Linked DNA regions of Homo sapiens. The protein of the gene in region 2 interacts with the protein of the main gene of each other region in a pairwise test. Each region holds a gene or a part of one and is shown on either strand. Other genes may lie near its edges. The genes, in order: PBX3, AGTRAP and SYT16.

Region 1 (3,748 bases), on a different chromosome or scaffold from region 2:
TGTTGCAAGTTCAGAGAATGGCAAATAGGAATACAGATAATATGTAAAGAAGCAAAAGGATTCAGGTTTGAATTAGCACATAAAGGGCCTTGCGTGCCAAGCATTCCAATGACCTATTATAATTTAGCTGTAGTGCAGGCCTTTAGTGGATATAAGCCATCTCTGTAAAGCAGCTCAACTCTTCAAGGGATGTCCAACAGAAAATAAGGATCAGATCTGGGTCTCAAACTTTTTAGTTAACAATCCTCAGGCCGGGCGCGGTGGCTCACGCCTGTAATCCCAGCACATTGGGAGGCTGAGGCGGGTGGATCACGAGGGCAGGAGATCGAGACCATCCTGGCTAACACAGTGAAACCCCATCTCTACTAAAAATACAAAAAATTAGCCCACCGTGGTGGCGGGTGCCTGTAGTCCCAGCTACTCGGGAGGCTGAGGCAGGAGAATGGCGTGAACCCAGGCGATGGAGCTTGCAGTGAGCCGAGATCGCGCCACTGCACTCCAGCCTGGGCAACAAAGCGAGATTCCAAGATTCTGTCTCAAAAAAAAAAAAAAAATCCTCAGACATTGTCTCTTTCAGTACATACACAAAAACACACACACACACACACACACACACACACATTTGTTTCCCCTAATATTCAGAGTCTCACTGTGTCACCCAGGCTAGAGTGCAGTGGTATGATCATAGTTCATTGCAGCCTCAAGCCCCTGGGCTCAAGCAATCCTCCCATCTCAGCTTCCCAAGTAGCTGTGACGACAGGCATGTGCCACCATACCCAGCTAATTTTTTATGTATTTTTTATTATTATTATTTTTTTTTGTAGAGACAGAGTCTTGCTCTGTCGCCCAGGATGGAGTGTTGGAGTGCAGTGGTGTGATCTCGGCTCACTGCAGCCTCCGCCTCCTGAGTTTAAGCAATTCTCCTGCCTCAGCCTCCCGAGTAGCTGGGACTACAGGTACACACCGCCACGCCCGGCTAATTTCTTTTGTATTTTAGTAGAGATGGGGTTTCACCATGTTGCCCAGGCTGATCTCAAACTCCTGAGTTCAGACAATCCACCTGCCTCAGCCTCCCGAAGTGCTAGGATTACAGGCATGAGCCACTGCGCCTGGCCCCCAGCTAATTTTTAAATCTTTTTTAGAGTCAGGGTCTTGCTATGTTGCCCAGACTTGTCTCAAACTCTTGGCCTAAAGAGATCCTCCCACCTCAGCCTCCTGAGCTGCTAGGATTACAGGTGTGTGCCACTGCATCCAACTTCATCTATATTCTCTTTGATTTATAAATCTGTATAACTGGGCCTACACTGAAATCCAGTACTGCCTGGTAAATAAAGCATCAGTTTATACTCCTGAAGAAAAAGAGTCTCTTCTGGCATTTTTCTTAAAAATGCAGGATGGGAAATTCTGCATCTTACTGCACGGGTGTCCCTGATGGAGTGAGAAGACAGAAAAATCACTGATCAATGCAAGACATGTTTGGAAGTTATAATAATGTCCACTTCCCTAGAGATATCCCAAACATTGCTCACATATAGCACATGATGGTTTTTCTAACTGCTCATTAGAGGACTAACCTTTCCTGAACCCTGTGTATTTCACTTACTCTAAAATTTTATAGAGCTTTCCATAAATATTTCTAAGGTAAGGTAAAATGAGTCTTATCATGTAAAGTTTTTTCAAAAATATGTTTTAAGCCATAGGAAATATTAAATTCCTTGTGAGTGGTGACACTATATTATACTTACGGGATTCTTCAGTGTAGAATTATGCAATATACATACCTAATAAACATCTACAGATTGGTGGGCTTTTTAATACTACAATTCAAGAGTGAGAGTTATGTTGGTTAATAGCCATAAATTCATTATCCCTGAATCATAAGAGAAGAATTCTTAATCTGCAGTCAATGGATAGGTTTAGAAGGTCAATGACCTCCTGAAATCCTACACAAGTTGTGTGCATATTAATAATTCTGATGAGAGAATCTGTGAAGCTTTTGTTTTCTTTTCAGAATCTCAGTCTATAATTTTAAAAGGTTAATAATCATTGTCCCAGGATATGACACAGTAAAACATTAAGCAATGTTGTAGACTAAAACCAGAAGTTGAAGGCAGAAACCAAGATTTAAAAAAATAAATTTAAGATCTTCCCCACTATATTATCAATTTATTTTATCTTATTACTATTTTTTTTGAGACGGAGTTTAGCTCTTGTTACCCAGGCTGTGGTGCAATGGCACGATCTTGGCTCACTGCAATCTCCGCCTCCCAAGTTCAAGCGATTCTCCTGCCTCAGCCTCCCAAGTAGCTGGGATTACAGGCGTGTGCCACCATGCCCGGGTAATTTTTTTTGTATTTTTAGTAGAGATGGGGTTTCACCATGTTGGTCAGGCTGGTCTCGAACTCCTGACCTCAAGTGATCTACCTGCCTCAGCCTCCCAAAGTGCTGGGATTATAGGCATGAGCCTGTAATAAATAGCACCTGGCCTATTATTTTGAGACAGTTTCATTCTGCTGCCCAGTCTGGAGTGCAGTGGCATGATCTTGGTTCACTGCAACCTCCGCCTTCTGAGTTTGAGTGATTCCCGTGCCTCAGCCTTCCAAGTAGCTGGGATTACAGGCATATGCCACTGCGCCCAGCTAATTTTTGTATTTTTAGTAGAGACAAGGTTTTACCATGTTGGCCAGGCTGGTCTCGAACTCCTGACCTCAAGTGATCCGCCCACCTTGGCCTCCCAAAGTGCTGGGATTACAGGCGTGAGCCACCATACCTGGCCTATATTATCAATTTAAATGATTTTATGCCAAATTAAAAACAAGTGGTCACCCTACCAATAAATATACGTATATATCTTTTTCTTGAACTTTCCCTAAGGAGATGTTTATATAATTTCCAAGTTATGTAATGTGACCAACTCTACCCTTCAGTTTTCTCATCAGTAAAACAAAGATAATTGAAGTAGAACTATTCCAAAACTGGGATTAACAAATTCTATAGTTCTACAGCTAGTTCCATAGAATGTTAACTAATAGTCCAACAATATGATATGTTTGGGAATTGCTGGGTTAACCAAAATCTTAAAAACTTTTTGTGGGTAAGACTCTTCAGTATTCCTATCCTAATATTTGTAATAAATCTTCAAGGAGAAATAGCATATCCAACTTTTTCCCAAATAAATTTGGCCACAAAATTTCTCTCTAGAGTAATCCTGTCCAATAGAAATACATTGTGAGCCACATATTAAATTTTTAAATTCTCAGTAGCCATATTAAAAAATAAAATACAAAGAATTAGGTGAAATTAATCAACAATATATTTCACTTAACCCAATATATAAAAAATATCCTGGCCTGGGCAACATGGTGAAACTCCGTCTCTACCAAAAATATAAAAAATTAGCTGGACATGGTGGCACGCCTGTGGTCCCAGCTACTTGGGAGGCTGAGGTAGGAGGATCACTTGAGCCCAGGAGGCAGAGGCTGCAGTGAGCTGAGATTGTGCCACTGCATCCAGCCTGGGTGACAGAGTGAGAGAAAGAAAAGAAAGAAAATTAAGAAAGAAAGAAACAAAGAAAGACAAAAAAACTGTTAATGAGGTATTTCATTCCTTTTTTGTACTCTTTGAAATCTAGTGTGTATTTTACATTGACAGCACATCTCAGTTCAGACTAGTCAGACTTCAAGTGCTCATTAGATACAAGTGGCTAGTGGCTGCCATATTCAACAGCACAGCTCTACGGCATCTTGTG
Region 2 (3,748 bases):
CCCTGTGCCATGGGCTTCCCCAGGCAGCACGTGCTTAGGAACCTGGGCAGAGGGACATCAGCCCCGGGCCCACGCACTCCTCTCCAGCTCCCCTCCCAGGTACAAGGACACCACATTACCATATCCAGATGGCCTCGGAGGCTGGGGCTGGGTCCAAGGCAGGGCCGTAGGGCTCCGAGTACGCCACATGCCTCACTCCCATCCCCTACTCTGTACATTCATCCCGGGACCCTGAACAAGTCCCAAAGGATGTGGGCCTCAGTTTCCTCATCTGTCCAATGGGAGAAACATTCTGGCACCCCTCACCTGGGGGCAGGCCCAGGCAGTGCTGAGGTCAGCCACTGTGGGCAGCCCCAGGCCATTCCCACCCTCAACCAGCTGGTGGCAGTCACAGGCCACGTGGGGCATCTCATCTCAGGAGTGAAAGGCAGAAGGCCACACCCTACCACCTCCCTCCACTCCTCTCAAAGAGAGAGAGAAAGGAAGAGAGAGAGAGGTGTCAGAGAGCAGGCAAATGGCTCGGCCACCAGGAGAAGGAGTACAGGAGTTCAGAGAGGGCGTGGGAGAGGGCAGGTGTAAGGCTGGGTGAGTGGGGAGGGGCCGGTGGGCAGGGAAAGTGCCCCCTGTTCAGGGCTGTCTTCACTGAGGCTCCCACAGCCTACACTGGCACGGGCTCTGCCCTGGCCACCTAGCAGTCTCTGCAGCAGGAGAGGGAAGACCCCATGTGGCAGGAAATGGGGTTCCAGTGATGGGCCCCGGTGAGAACAGAGAGGAGACCTGTAGGTGCCCGTGGCCCTCAGGATGGAGACAGCCCAGGGCTGCCCCTGGGAACTAAATGGTACCCCCAGCTGTGCCTGTGTTCTGGGCTGAGAGAAGGGCCCAGCCTCAGCTTCACAGCAGAAGAAGGTCACGGCAGACCAGGACAACCAGGGGACCCCTGGGCTCCTGCAGCAGAGACTAGGAGCTTGGACCTGTCCAGCCTAGTACAGAGCGCCCATGCCACGCTCTCCCTGCACCTTGAGCCCTGGCCCCATGGGGCAAGGCTGGCTCACTGAGGGAGAGGCTGGAGGCCAGGCAAGGGAGAGAAGGGAGCGGTGAGGAGCTGGCTGGAGGTGGTGGCCTCACCAGTGTGGACCAGGAGCTCACCCCCGCGCTCCCGGTACATGTGGTAGACGAAGCAGCAGGAGAGCGGCTTGAGCAGCAAGCTGAGGATGGCCATGCCCACGCCAAAGCGGCCCGTGTCCGTGAGGCTGACCCGCGGGTAGAAGATGCTGATGTGCACGATGTCCAGGAAGATGGTGGCCAGCAAGCCACCCAGAAACTGCAAGACACACCACACTGATGAGCACAACACCCCCACCACGCTCCGTGGCTCCCCCGCCACACACCGGATGGGAAGCCGTTTCATGCCCTGCTGTGTCCTTGGGGCTTGCGGGAAAATGGATCAAGCAAGCAGGCAGGGCCCCGCTGGGGAGCCGCTGGCTGAGACTGCAGTCTGGGGGCAGGGATGCCGGGGGCCCAGGTCTCGGTTCCACCAGAGCCTCCCTCCCCACCCATTTCCCGTCATCTCCAAGGCCATGATGGGCACAAGACTTGGCTCTAGAACCTCCATAGAGGAAGGTTCCTTGGAGTTCACCCAGTCCTTCTCCAACACAAAGAAAATCTCTTCTCAGTCATCCTGAGGCCCTGGCCTCGGCTTGAAGAGCCCGTGCGGGAGTGCTCACTGCCCCACGGGGCTCCGTGGGTGCTGAGAAGCTCCCCCTGTGGGAGGTTTCGGTGGGGCAGGGTCACCTCTACTTCCTAAAGTAGTGAAATGCCCTCTTGGCCGGGTCTCCCAGCCATATCCCCTCCCCTAAAAGAGAGCCGCAGAGGGAGGTTACAGGGGATGTTCCACTGCTCTTGCGAAGTGGCTAATCCGAGGCACTGGTGGGACCCACCCCATGGCTTTCCTCAGGGAGATAATGGCAGACTTGGGGTTCTCTAAGCCAGACAAGAAGAGCAGCAGGCTGGGCTCCTGAACACAGGCATGGGCCGGAGCCCAGGAGGCTGATGAACAGGCTTTAGACAATGGGAAGTGGTGGCCCAAGGAAGAGGGGGAAGATTGGGATGGGACGGGGTAGCAGAGCCAGGCTATGTCTTGCCCTGTGCTGCGGCTCCCCGCCTTGCCGCCTCTCCCCCACCCTGGCTCACCATGCTTATGGCGTCGATGGAGTCCCGCTGAGCCACAGCCCACACGCCCAAGGCCAGGATGGTGAAGTTGGCCCAGGCATAGGAGCCTGAGAATACAATGCAGCCCCTGTAGGAAGAGGTAGCTCAGTCCCGTCAGGAGGCCACCACCCCGCAGGTCACCTCCCTCCTGCTCCGGCGTCTCAGGGCCTCCTCCCAGAACATGCCATAGTCTTCGAGGCCACCCGGCTGTGTGCCAGCAAATCCCATGGGCTCCGCCTCCCACCCAGACCCTGGATCTGGCTGTGTCCCTGTAGATCCAAAGCACCTCCCTCTCCTGGCAGATGACAGCCGCAGCCACCCTGTGCCAGCGTCCTGACTGCCACTCTGTTCTCTAAACAGCAACCGGTAACGTAGTCAGATGCTGTCACTCCTCTGCTAAAAATCCTCCAACAGTTTTCTGTCCCATTTGGAATAAAATGCAGACTCTTCACCAGGGCCTAAGGGGCCTGTGGGATCCCGGACACAGCCTCGCCCTACTGACCTCCCAGCCACTGCCCTGTGCGGCGGGCGCCCTCTACCCTGACACCTGGCCCTCCTTTTGTCATTCACCCTGAGACTCGAATGTTCACCCTGAGACTCCTTCCCTTGCCCACCGGTGCTAAGTACAAGTTCGTCACTTTCCTAACACAAGGCCCGCCCTATTCTATTTTTAGGGTACTGATACTGACATTGTTGACTTACTTGTCAATCCAATCAAAATCATAGTGAACACCGATCACTTGCTAGTACCTAGCATGGTTCTGTTTTAAATTAACTCATTCATGTACATTTATGTTAATAACCATAGGAAGGAAGTATTATTGTTACCCTCACTTTAGAGATGAGGAAACTGAGACACAATGAGGTTAAGTAACTCGCCCAAGGTCACACAGTTGCTGAGCAGTGGGGCTGGGATTTGGAGTCTGGCTGGAGAGGCCATGCTCTTGCTCACCCTGCTGTGCTGCAAGGAAGACTCAGGGGGACAGGGACTGAGTCTACCTCATTTATTACCAAACCCACTGGGCCTTGCCTTCCCCTGCATGCAGCGGGCGCTTCCTAGATTTATAGGACATTCACTAAAGTGTAACATGCAGAAGACATGTGCAAGGCAGGTGTGGAGTGCCATTCGGTTCAATAGGTCTTTGAATAAACCATCTTATCTTTTGCTTTTAAGAAAGCAGGTGCCTGGGTCCCAGCCCAGAATCACCAACTCAGAATCTTGGGGAAGTGTGACTAAGAAATCTGTATTTTGGCCCTGCTTCTCAAGGTCGTGAATCATGATGGTTACAGTTCACATTACTCACAGCTGTTGCCCTGTGCGCTGCACTTCGAAGTTTGCAAAGTGCACAGGTGAGCTCAATGGTTTCCAGTCTTGGTTTGGCAGAGAAATGTCTCCAGAAGCTCAACAGATTAAAAGAGATGGTAAAGGTGAAAATCAAGCTGCAGTGCTGAGGCCTCACTGTGGGGCAGGCCCTGGGGAGCTCTGATGAGCACTTCCACGTCTCCCTCCCAGCTCCTGCAGGGTGTGCAATCCTTATGC
Region 3 (3,748 bases), on a different chromosome or scaffold from region 2:
AAAGGAGGAAAGCATGTTGGTATCCCCACACATATCAGATGATGGCAAAACAGCAGGGAGAGGACAACCACCATTTACTGAAGGCCACCTGTGTGCCCATCGCTTGTAAGAGCTATGAATGACAGCCTTGTCCTAATTTAGAGAAACTGAGGACAGTGCCATGGTCCCACTGCTAGGGAATTCTAGAGAGATAAAATACAGGTCTGTTTGACTACAAAAACTCAAGCTCTCCACACTATCCTAAAGCTGTGTTCTTGGCTGGGATGATTGTTTACAAGAAAAATAATAAATTATTGCAGAAATTTTGACATCTCATTTTCCCATCTCTTTTCCTCCTCACCTCTCAAAAAAAAAAAAAAAAAAATACCTTCCAAAGGGCCTCTGTAGCCAGCACACCATTTGATTTTTGTTTTTTTCCTCTGTGGCCCAGACTGGAGTGCAATGGCAGGGTCATAGCTCACAGCAGCCTCGCACTCCTGGGCTCAAGTGATCCTCCCGCCTCGGCCTCCCAAAGTGCTGGGATTACAGGCCTGAGCCAGCACATCCAGCCCCATTCACTCATCTAATGAAGTCCCTAACATGCGCCACACCTGTGCTAGGGACTTTGGATGCTAGGTACGCAGGTGTGACTTGGTTTTACTCTGAACTCCCTTTGAAGCTTCACTAATACGTATCTGGCTTCAAACGCAACTAACTTAACCAGTTTTCACAGACGGGATTCCAATTTCCAAAGGCACTGAGCCATAAGAGCAGCGGTGCCAAGATGCCAAAAGCAGGCCAACCCAGCGCCTTCCAACGCTTCCATTCAGAGTTTCAACCTGATGTCTCCAGGCACTCCTCCCACCCACTGACCATGGTAACCAGATGCGGTCTCCAGCCGGCCTTGTGCTGCCCGCTGCGAATACAGCCCGTGGGCCACCGGGCAGCCGAGCCATGCAAGCCACCCTGATCCCCAAAAGGCAGACGCACAAACCCGACCCAGAACTCGAGGCGAACCTTGAACTCACAGCGCCAAAAACGCGCAGTGCCTTCGTTTGCCCGGCTCGCTGAAGGCTGGCTCTGGGCCTGGGGGCAGTGCCCGCGAAGGGCTGCGATGGCAGGCCCCGCTGCCACACGGCATCGAGGGTCCCTCCGCCTCGGCGCCAGGCGCACGCCCTTCTGCCACATCCCTCGCGGGGCGCGCCGCCAGGGCCACCTGCCCTTTCAAGCCCCGCCAGGCAGCCAAGGGTGAGGAGCGGAGAGGGACCCGGCCGCTGCTGCCGCGAGCCAGCACAAAGGCAGCGTCTGAAATCGAACTTCCCACCCTGGGCACCGCGGCCTCCCCCCACCCCTGGCCTCCGCGGCCGGAGCGCACTCACTGTCAGTCGCCATGGTCGGACGAGGGGGCTGCCCGACGGCCGCCCAGGTTCGGGAAACCGGCGCCGAGCCCGGCCGGGCGCGCGCTCCTCGGCAGGCCCGGTGCGCTCGGGGGCCGCGCCGCGCACAGCCCCTCCTGCCGCGCGCCCCCGCCGCGCCGCGCCGCCCCGCGCCGCCCCGCGCCCAGCAGCCGCCAGCCCTGCGGCCGCCGCCGGCGTCCTGAGAGCCCAGCCTCCCGGGCAGAACGGCCGAGCTGCGGCGCCTAGAGGCTGGATCTCCCCCTCCTCGCCTCGCCGCGTCCGTCCCCCTCCCCTCCTTTCCTTTCCCGCCCCTCCCCCAAAGAGGATGCTCGCCGCAACTTGGAAACACGCTCCCGGCCACGCTAGGGTCGCCTCTCCACGCCACCTTTCCTACAACGTTCCCGCTATATCCTTGTTTTCGAGTCACCTTTTCCATTCTCCGCTTCATCCCTACCTCGAGCTTCTCACCAGCGGGGTTGGGACCCCATGCTCAGCCCCAGCTGGAAGGAGCAAAGCGGGAGAAGAGCTAGGGGTGTGGGGAGGATGAGCCAGGTGCTGGGCATTAATCCTCCGGGGCAGGAGCTCTCCTGCGAAACCGCTCAACGCCATCTCCGTAGGCTCCAAGTGGGCCGTGCTCTTCATGTCACCCTCTGTTTTGTCTCCGATGTGAAAATAGTTCCCAGCACGTAGTAGGCTCTCAGCAGATTTCTGTTGAGTGGGTGAATGGATGTCTTTATAACTGGATGCCTGCATGAATGAATGAATGAATGGCCAACTAACTGATTGGACGTCCACTGGATGAGCAACTGATACATGATCATAGCCAACTACAGCCCTGCCACTGACTAGGGATGGACGCTAGAGTAAGTAAGTGGACCAGGCCGAATGAGTGAGCCGGAGTCTTGTGCCTCACAGGCCATTGTGGTTCAGGAGGGCTCTGAACTGAGGCTGTCAGTTCAGAATGATGTTGTATACATCTTCTTGAAGTCCAAAAACCAATTTCTGATGGATTATTGGATTATTCTGCCATTACTTTTGCACCAACCTAATATATTAGGGGACAGTTGTACATTAGAAACCCCCGTCTCCACCACCAGATCCATCATGTGAAGGATCAAATGGCTCAAACACATCCCCTAAATTACATGGCAGGCTAGATACTTCTTAAAGATACAATACATTTCGCCCAGGCATGGTGGCTTAAGCCTGTAATCCCAACACTTTGGGAGGCCAAAGTAGGAGAATCACTTTAGCCCGGGAGTTCAAGTCTGCAGTAAACTATGATTGCACCACTGCACTCCAGCCTGGGTGAAAGAGCAAGACCCTGTCCCTAGTTTTTAAAAGAAGAAAAAAGGGCCGGGTTCACGCCTGTAATCCTAGCACTTTGAGAGGTCTAGGCAGGTGGATAGCTTGAGCCCAAGAGTTTGAGACAAGCCTGGGCAACATAGTGAGACCCTGTCTCTAGAAAAAATAAAACAAAAATTAGCCAGGCTGGTGGTGCATGCCTGTGGTCCCAGCTACTCAGTAGGCTGAGGGGGAAGATCACTTGAGGCTGGGAGGTGAAGGCCGCAGTGAGCTGAGATCATACTACTGCACTCCAGCCTGGGTGACAGAATGAGACCCTGTCTTAAAAATAAAATAAAATAAAAATACAAAGATACAATCCATTTGATGCATTTGGAGATGCACATTCAACCCAATCAGCCCCGGGCTGGATGCTGAGAAGACTCAGGAGCAAGGCTCCCGTCTGCCTATCCACTAGCTCCCACGTGGCTAGGCAGACAGAAAACTGCCAGAGAACAACACAGGAGTCCTCTCTGGTCAGTTCACAGAGCACGATGAGGGAGAGAATATTCTGATCAGGCTCCACATTCTGATTCAGTCCACCTAGAGTAGCACTTAGGGGTGTCCTTTTTTTAAATTGTGTTTAGCCTTTATTTGTTTTAACACAGGTGATTCTGAAGCAGACTTCTAGTTAAGAACCACAGAGACCTGGTTCATTTGTCTTTCACAACAACCATCTGCAGTAGACCCAAAAGCCAACACTCTGGAAGTGGGTTGGATGGGGAAAAGGAAAAAAGAATTAAACATGACCCTGGAGTCTTTAACCTGTTTGGAGCTCACAAACCAGGAGGTTAAAGGAAAAAAGAATTAAACATGACCCTGGAGTCTTCAACCTGTTTGGAGCTCACAAACCAGGAGGTTAAGCTGGTGTGAGGGCAAAAAGGGTGGGTTGGGCTTGGATTCAATTGAAGGGTCAGTGGAACATGTGTGAGGCTCCTTATGCATTAATCAAACTGGCTTTTCCAAATGAGAAAAAGGAAAAAAAATGACAATTCAAAGGATATGTTCAATAAATGATTTCTGAATAA

What was found.
Region 1: the proteins of AGTRAP (region 2) and PBX3 interact in a two-hybrid assay, tested with the Homo sapiens proteins (4 studies listed by BioGRID).
Region 3: the proteins of AGTRAP (region 2) and SYT16 interact in binary tests that used the Homo sapiens proteins (3 or more experiments, as listed by UniProt).

Annotation. Positions count from the first base shown.
Region 1 is NC_000009.12:125,925,266-125,929,013, reverse strand, and holds part of PBX3 (pre-B-cell leukemia transcription factor 3), read right to left. Parts: intron 1-3,748. UniProt on the Homo sapiens protein: Transcriptional activator that binds the sequence 5'-ATCAATCAA-3'.
Region 2 is NC_000001.11:11,745,988-11,749,735, reverse strand, and holds part of AGTRAP (type-1 angiotensin II receptor-associated protein), read right to left. Parts: intron 3,610-3,748; coding exon of another isoform or gene 3,513-3,609; intron 2,297-3,512; coding exon 2,191-2,296; intron 1,322-2,190; coding exon 1,126-1,321; intron 1-1,125. UniProt on the Homo sapiens protein: Appears to be a negative regulator of type-1 angiotensin II receptor-mediated signaling by regulating receptor internalization as well as mechanism of receptor desensitization such as phosphorylation.
Region 3 is NC_000014.9:61,810,421-61,814,168, reverse strand, and holds the start of SYT16 (synaptotagmin-16), read right to left. Parts: upstream 1,467-3,748; 5' UTR 1,372-1,466; coding exon of another isoform or gene 1,359-1,371; intron 1-1,358. UniProt on the Homo sapiens protein: May be involved in the trafficking and exocytosis of secretory vesicles in non-neuronal tissues. Is Ca(2+)-independent.